Linked DNA regions of Homo sapiens: region 2 is linked to region 1. The links come from fine-mapping of genetic effects on gene expression. A gene starts in region 1. The other region holds a variant in brackets. All regions are shown on one strand. Distances are from middle to middle.

Evidence for each region. PIP is the estimated chance that this variant, and not a neighbour inherited with it, causes the effect.
Region 2: its variant is the best candidate, but not a certain one, in a credible set for the expression of ZBTB6 in whole blood (INTERVAL, PIP 0.56).

The regions. Positions count from the first base shown.
Region 1 is chr9:122,911,094-122,915,487 of GRCh38, reverse strand. ZBTB6 (zinc finger and BTB domain containing 6) reads left to right here and starts at 2,165. Exons shown (of 2, transcript NM_006626.6): 1 at 2,165-2,237; 2 at 3,407-4,394. The coding sequence starts at 3,416. RefSeq lists enhancers at 1-632, 2,101-2,330, 2,341-2,450.
Region 2 is chr9:123,242,393-123,246,786 of GRCh38, reverse strand. All of the region lies in intron 1 of STRBP (spermatid perinuclear RNA binding protein), which reads left to right. Among named protein-coding and RNA genes, the nearest start is that of STRBP, 24 kb to the left of the region's middle. The variant G/A (reference allele first, on the strand shown) is at 1,844.

The DNA.
Region 1 (4,394 bases):
GTCTTCTTTATGTATAGTCTTAAAAATACATATTAAGCATGCTGAGCTTGCCTTCAGAAAAAAATACGAATTAATCAGAAAGTTGTTACTAGATTCATTTACTTCCACGAGAACCTGTTGCTGGAGGAGCAGAGCAACTGCCTTTAAGAATTGGTTCAGAGGCGGCCGGGCGCGGTGGCTCACGCCTGTAATCCCAGCACTTTGGGAGGCCGAGGCGGGTGGATCACAAGGTCAGGAGATCGAGACCATCCTGGCTAACACGGTGAAACCCCGTCTCTACTAAAAATACAAAAAATTAGCCGGGCCTGGTGGCAGGGCATTAGTCCCAGCTACTCGGGAGGCTGAGGCAGGAGAATGGCGTGAACCCGAGAGGCGGAGCTTGCAGTGAGCCAAGATCGCACCACTGCACTCCAGTCTGGGCGACAGAGCGAGACTTTGTCTCAAAAAAAAAAAAAAAAAAAAAAAAAAAGGAATAGAATTGGTGCAGAGGCCGGGCGCGGCGGCTCATGCCTGTAATCCCAGCACTTTGGGAGGCCAAGGCGGGTGGATCACCTGAGGTCAGGAGTTCGAGACCGGCCTGGCCAACATGGTGAAACCCCGTCTCTACCAAAAATACAAAAAGTAGCTGGGTGTGGTGGCAGGCACCTGTAATCCCAGCTACTCGGGAGGCTGAGGCAGGAGAATTGCTTGAACCTGCTAGGCGGAGGTTGCGGTAGGCCGAGATCGTGCCACTGCACTCCAGCCTGGACCACAGAGTGAGACTCTGTCTCAAAAAAAAAAGAAAAAGAATTTCTTCAGTCATATCTTCATTCAGCACAAATACTTGATGCCTACCAAGTGCTAGACTTCGAGAATACAAAGATCAGTAAGCCACTGTCCTAAATAACTCTGCCTAGATGAGGCACAAATTAATACAGGCGTGTTAAGTGCAATAATGAAGGCAGGAAAAGGGATTACAGGTTTCAAACTGGGAACCAATTATCTTAGGGCAGTTCAGGATGGCTTCAGGATGATGAGATTTATAAACGGGTTCTTTAAAGATACGTTGGGGAAGGCCGGGCTCGGTGGCTCACGCCTGTAATCCCAGCACTTTGGGAGGCCAAGGCGGGCGGATCACGAGGTCAGGAGATCGAGACCATCCTGGCTAACACGGTGAAACCCCGTCTCTACTAAAAATACAAAAAAAAAAAAATTAGCCAGGCGAAGTGGCGGGCACCTGAAGTCCCAGCTTACTCGGGAGGCTGAGGCAGGAGAATGGCGTGAACCCAGGAGGCGGAGCTTGCAGTGAGCCGAGATCCTGCCGCTGCACTCCAGCCTGGGCGACAGAGAGAGACTCCGTCTCAAAAAAAAAAAAAAAAAGCCTGGGGAAAAGGCTAGGGCACGTCAGAGGAAACAGCTGGGCCAAAAGTTTTGGGATGGAGGAACGCATTTAAGTGTGAAGCTAGATCCAGAGGTTGGGGCCATCTCCTGATGGGGCATTATCTAGGCAATCTCGAATACGGATCTTTATGATAGTTTCTGCTCTGCCACCTTTCAAGTTGTAGGTGGCCCCAATAAGGAGAGGAATCGTCCCAGAATAATCCATAAAAGGTCTGGTTACTCTGACAGACGTGCCGTAACCGAACCTCAAACCCCGTCTCCAATTCGGATGTTCAGGAGGACTCACAAAAGGAAATGGCTCGGCTGGGCGCGGTGGCTCAACCCGGTAATCCCAGCATTTAGGGAGGCCGAGGCGGGCGGATCTCCTGAGGTCAGGAGTTCGATACCAGCCTAGCCAACATGGTGAAACCCCGTCTCTACTAAAAATACAAAAATGAGCCGGGCGTGGTGGCGGGCGCCTGTAATCTCAGCTACTTGGGAGGCTGCGGAGCGAGAGTCGCTTGAACCCGGGAGGCGAAGGTTGCAGTGAGCCGAAATCGCGCCATTGCACTCCAGCCTGGGCAACAAGAGCGAAACTCCGTCTTAAAAAAAAAAAGGGATGGTGGGGGAAAACGGCTCGAGTGCCGAAACTGGGACAAGAGAGATGGGGCTTGCCGGCATTCAGGAGCCTTTCTGTCATTCCAAGAGGGGGGAAGTGAGGAAGGAAGACCGTCTCAGAATGTCCTTCCGGGGCGCCTAGAGGGCCCCAGTAAAGAATAAAGCTGGTTGGCACCGGATGTGTTTTCTTCCAGGCTAAGTCCATCTTCCGGCTTGGGCAGACGCTGCCGCGGAATCCTTGACTCTAGTTTTCTGAGTCGGTGAGTGAGTGCAAAGTAGATTCCTCAGGTGGAGGGTGCCTGAGGAAGAGGAGGAGGAGGAGGAGGACAGCTGGGCTCGGCCCCGGAGTGGCTAATCTTGTGCTGCAACCACTGGGCCGACAGGGCCTTGGCCCTTCGCAGGGTTGCCTCCAGAATACCTGTGTGCTGAACCTGGCATCCGGTTTCAGTTCAGCAGATGTTCCCTGAGCTCCTCCTGCTCTGTGTGGGCCCCTGAGCTCGGTGCAGGAACACAGATGCATCAGGCACCATCTCGCGGTGCTCAGAGAGCAGCTGACTCTCTCTGGTTGAAACGGGAGGTGGAGTCATATTAGTTTTACTTGATTTGGGCTTAAAGGAGCCTAATCACTAGCTGAAAAAAGGAACTGGAAACGCGAATGTAAGAAATGTGTATTCGTGTCTTTTTGTCTGGGTAATGATGGAAAAATTTAGTATTGAACGAGGTTCGAGTATGAAAAAGAGAATAGAAGGTGATAAAGCCATAAAGATGGGTTAGAGCCAAATCGTGATGGGTCTCGTATTCTTTCCTAAGAAATCTGGACTGTCCCGGAGGTAGAGAAGAACGATAGAAGATTTAAAGCAGAAAAGGGAAATTAAAAATAAAATAAAATAAGGGTTGTTAATCCTGGTGGCACTCAGGCGGGTAATCTGGCATACAGAAGAGTGTGGTATAAAGAAGACCTGTTGGAAGACATTGCAGTTGTCCAGGTGAACCGGAAGGAGGACCTGTTGTAGTGGTGGGGAGTAGGAAGTTTGGAGATTACGTTAAAGTTGCTAATTGGATATATTATGTTAAATCAACTTTTTGGTGGTCACAGTGCTTATATTGGATATTCAAAATTGATAGATTGTTCTTGACCACAAGGCACACAACATTTAGCAAAAGAAACAAGCTAGAAACTGTTCACTACAATTCATTGTAATGAATGTTGTAACAAAGTTATGAAAAATGTGCTATGAGATCATAGAGAAGTGCATTATAAAGTTCTCGTTTTGAGATGGTGGCATAAAGGTTCATAACACCTACATTAGACTTTGAGTCTTCTTCTTCCTAATTCAGGTTTGGGGTTTTTCGTTTGTTTTCACCATTACAGCATGGGAAAGCATTCCCTATCCTTATTACATCAATGTTTGTGTTTTATTTTGCTTAGATTGTGATCATGGCTGCTGAGTCTGATGTTCTGCATTTCCAGTTTGAACAGCAAGGAGATGTGGTCTTGCAGAAAATGAATCTTTTGAGACAGCAGAATTTATTTTGTGATGTATCAATTTACATTAATGACACTGAGTTCCAGGGGCACAAGGTGATTTTGGCTGCTTGCTCCACTTTTATGAGAGATCAGTTTTTACTCACACAGTCAAAACATGTCAGAATCACCATCTTACAGAGTGCAGAAGTTGGCAGAAAATTGTTACTGTCTTGCTATACTGGAGCACTTGAAGTTAAAAGGAAAGAGCTTTTGAAATACTTGACTGCTGCCAGTTACCTTCAGATGGTTCACATTGTGGAAAAGTGCACAGAAGCTTTGTCAAAGTATCTGGAAATTGATCTTTCTATGAAAAACAACAACCAACACACTGACCTGTGTCAGTCTTCTGATCCTGATGTTAAGAATGAAGATGAAAATTCTGATAAAGACTGTGAGATAATTGAAATTTCAGAAGATAGTCCTGTAAACATAGATTTCCATGTTAAAGAAGAGGAAAGCAATGCTTTGCAGTCTACAGTAGAGAGTCTGACATCAGAGAGAAAGGAAATGAAGTCACCAGAGCTGTCTACAGTAGACATAGGTTTTAAAGACAATGAAATTTGTATCCTTCATGTAGAATCCATCAGTACAGCTGGTGTCGAAAATGGGCAGTTTTCACAGCCTTGTACCTCTTCAAAAGCAAGCATGTATTTCTCTGAAACACAGCATTCATTGATCAATTCTACAGTTGAGAGCAGAGTGGCTGAAGTTCCTGGGAATCAAGATCAGGGCTTATTTTGTGAGAATACTGAAGGAAGTTATGGTACAGTGAGTGAGATTCAGAATCTGGAGGAAGGTTATTCACTGAGGCACCAGTGCCCCAGGTGTCCTCGAGGCTTTCTTCATGTTGAAAACTATCTGCGCCACCTTAAAATGCATAAACTATTCT
Region 2 (4,394 bases), 330 kb before region 1:
TTTGTTTGTATTGGCAGTCAGCCAATATTTTATAAGCTACAATTTTCCTTTGAATAGCTGGTGGTTTGTAGCTCCATAATTTGTGGTTCTTCTGAACTTGTAAAAAGATTACACATATTTAAAAATGGCCTTATCACTTTAATGTTTTAAGCAATACACAACTGTCAAATTCTGTTATGTTATAGTATTGTTGTTTTACTTAATTTTCCTGGGCTGAGAATCTAACTTAATAATTTATACAGTATAATTGGAATCTCATCCCCCTAAACCCCAATGAAACTCCAAACAAACCTAAAAACCAAAAACTACATTAGTAATGTAACAGGCACTGTTAAAGGCAAAGGAAATGTGAGCGACTCTACATCGGTCTGCCAAAATCCTTGCAGTATTCATGCTAGTCCATTATTTAGCCACTGCTGCCCGGATGTGTTGAATTATGTGGTATGTGGGTTTGTTTGGGTGTATATGGTGTTCTTATGTGACATTTAGTTTTAAATTAAGGTTTTTGTGATGCTGTCAATGTTGCCTTTTCACATGCAGTTGGAAAAGAATACTTCATTCGAAATGTTTCATGTTCTGTACCTTGTTCTCCTGGTTTGTCTGTGGGTAGTTAAATTTGTGAAAGTCACGAGGTTATTTTAAATCTTTCCTTTTGATTTTAGGTTAAGTCTAAAATGGAATATTGTAACCTTTTGGCTTGAGAGATTTTGGAAAGCCAGATTAATATATCCATTTTTGTACTTACAGAAGTTTCACAGATAAAGGTGAACCTACCATTCAATTTCAGACTCAAACTCCATTGCCGAGTAGGAACGTTATTTAAAAATAAACCATAATGAACTATTGTCTTTCTTGGGCTAAATCCTTTTGTTTCTGGAAGCTGAGTGAGGTTTGGGTTAAAGTTTCCATTTATCAGTGGGATAATTTTTGTGGCTAAGATTTTAGTGAATTGTTAACAGCCAGATCCTTAACAACTGTTAATAATCTTATTAACATGTTAGTAAAGGTTGCTTTTAAAAAGACTCTCTAGCTCTGGAGGATACTGATTCTCATTCTTGATTGAACGTTAGAATTACCTGAGAGTTAAAAGAAATACAGATGCTTGAGGCCGGACGTGGTGGCTCACGCCTGTAATCCCAGCACTTTGAGAGGCTGAGGAGGGCGGATCACGAGTTCAGGAGATCGAGACCATCCTGGCTAACACAGTGAAACCCCATCTCTACTAAAAATACAAAAACATTAGCTGGGTGTGGTGGCAGCTCCCAGCTACTCAGGAGGCTGAGACAGGAGAATGGTGTGAACCGGGGAGGCGGAGCTTGCAGTGAGCCGAGATCGTGCCACTGCACTCCAGCCTGGGCGACTGAGCGAGACAACGTCTCAAACAAACAAACAAACAAAAACAACAAAAAAAAGAAATACAGATGCTTGGATTTCACCTTGAGGATTCTAATTTAATTGGTTTGGGATGCTACCTAAGCATCTGGATTTTTAGAGGTAATTCCAGTGTGCATATGAGGCTTAGAACTCCCGCTCTGGGAAATTTGTTAGCCCACTCAAGGGGAAAAATTTGGTTTTAGAGAATATATCTTTACCTTTGGAGTTTATAAAACTTTTTTTTTGAGGTAGTTGTGGATTCACATGCTGTTGTAGGAAATAATGTACTGAGTAATCCATCTCTGTAATTTTATCATTTCAAGAATTTTATGTAAATGAAGTAATATAGTATGTAAACTTTTCAGCTTGGCTTTTTCACTCAGGCTAATTCCTTTGAGATCCATCCAAGTTGTTGCATGTGTCAGTAGTTTGTTCCTTTTTATAGTTAAGTAGTATTCCATGGTAGGTA[G/A]GGAAGTATCACAGTTTAGTCATTCACCTGTTGAAGGACATTTGGATTGTTTCCATATTGGCTATTACTGTTAAAGCTGCTGTGAACATTTGTGGATGGGCTTTTGAATGGTCATAATTTTCCATTTCTTTGGGATAAATGCCCAAGAGTACAATTGCTGGGTTATGTGATAAATGCATTTTTAGTTTTCTCAGATAGTGCTGTACTTTTTCTGAGTGGCTGTATCACTTTACATTCCCACCAGCAGTGTATGTGTGATCCAGTTTCTCTACATCTTTGCCAGCGTTTGACATCAATACTATTTTTTGAGAAAGATTAGTAGACTTCATTGGAGCAGTTTTAGGTTTACAGAAAGTTGGGCAGATAATTCAGAGAGTTCCCATATACCTTCTTCCCTCATGACTTTCCCCTTTTATTAACATCTGTTACCATGGTAAATTTGTGAAAATTGTTGAACAATAATGCAGTATTAATGCATTATTATTAACTAGTCTATGGCTTATATTAGGACTCTGTGACTTGTACAGGTCTGTGGGTTTTGACAACAAATGTAAAATGACATGTGTCCACTGTTACAGTATCATACAGAATAGTTTTACTGCCCTAAAAATCTGTTCTCTACCTGTTCAGCCCTCCTGTACCCCCAGTTCGTGGCAACCACTGATCCTTTTACTGTTAACATAGTTTTGCCTTTTCCAGAATGTCATATAGTTGAAAGCATATAGTATCTGACCTTTTCACACTGGCTTCTTTTGCTAGGCTATATGCATTTAAGGTTTCTCCATGTCTTTACATGGCTTGATAACTCTTACTCTCCCCCCATCTCTCTTTATTGCTGAATAATATCCTATAGTGGATGAACCACAGTATTCAACTGTGATTATATCACAATTTGTTTATCCATTCACCTATTGAAAAACATCTTGGTTGTTCCCAGTTTTTGGAAATTATGAACAGAACTGCTATAAACATTTGTGTGTGGACTTTTGTGTGGATGTAAGTTTTCAGATCATTTAGATAAATATCTAGGAGCACAATTCCTATTGTATTGTGTTGTAAGACTACATTTAGCCTTGTGAGAAACTTCTAAACTTTTCCAAAGTACCATTTTACATTTCCCTCAGCAATGAATTATTTTTTATTTTAACCATTCCGATACTTATGTAGTAATTCTTTTCATTATGATTGGATTTGCATGTCTCTGGATAATGATTTTGAATATGTTTTCATATGCTTATTTGCCATCTGCTTTTCAGTGAAATGTTTGTTCATGTTTTTGCCCATTTTCTAATTGGATTCTTGTTTTTTAATTTTTATTTGTTTTAACTGTTGAGTTTTGAGGGTTCTTTATATATTCTAGTTAGAAGTCCTTTATTGGGTATGTGGTTTGTAATTATTTTCTCCTAGGCTGTAGCTTGTCTTTATATCCTCTTAATTGTGTCTTTCATAGAACAAAAATTAATTTTGACCAAGTCTAGTTTATCAGGTTTTCCTTTTACGAATCTTGCTTTTGCAAGAACTCTTCAACTAGCCCTGTGCCCCAAAGATTTTTTCCTAAAAGTGTGTTTATTTCTGAAAGTTTTATAGTTTTAAGTCTGTGATTCATTTCAAATTAGGTTTTGTGTAAGGTGTGAAGTTTAGATGAAAGCTCTATTTTTCTTTTTTTTTTTTTTTTTTTGTCTTATTGATGTCTAATTCCTCTAGCTGCATTTGTTGAAAGGGCTATCCTTCTTCCATTTAATTGCTTTGCATTTTTCTAAGAAATTAGTTGGACATGTTTGTGTGGATCTGTTTTTGGCTTCTCTGTTCTACTCCATCGATCTCTGTGTCTGTCCGTCTACCAATACCACGCAATCTTGATTACTGTGGCTATATAATAAGTCTTTAAATTTGGTAGAATTTCTCCAATTTTATTATTTTAAAAATTGTTTTAGCTTTTCTTGGTCTTGTGTCTTTCCATGTAAGTTTTAGAATAAGTTTGGTTATGTCTATAAAAATCCTTGGTAAAAATTTTATTACATCTATAGATAAATTTGGGAAGAATTGACATTTTTACTGTGGAGTGTCTCTACCATTGGATTTTAATAGATTGGAATGAGACTAGAAAGAAGTAGTTCTGTAGAGAAAATACTCAAATTACTTAAATTGTATGGAGAGAATTCTTTGTAATTAGCAAAATGTTAAACTTTTTAGCCCTCCCTCCCTTTTTGGTGTTAAAAACCATAATTAATAGAGCTGTGGAAGTGGAAGCAATTTCATTTCAATTCTGTTTATTTATTTATTTGAGACAGGGTCTCACTCTGTCACCCAGGCGGGAGTGCAGTGGTGTGATCTCTACTTAGTGCAACCTTTTCCTCCTGGGTTCAAGCGATTCTCCTGCCTCAGCCTCCTGAGTAGCTGTGACTACAGGTACATGTCACCATGCCCAGCTAATTTTTTGTATTTTTAGTAGAGACGGGGTTTTGCCATGTTGGCCAGGCTGGTCTCAAACTCCTGGCCTCAAGTGATCTGCCCACCTTGGCCTCTGAAAGTGCTAGGATTACAGGCATGA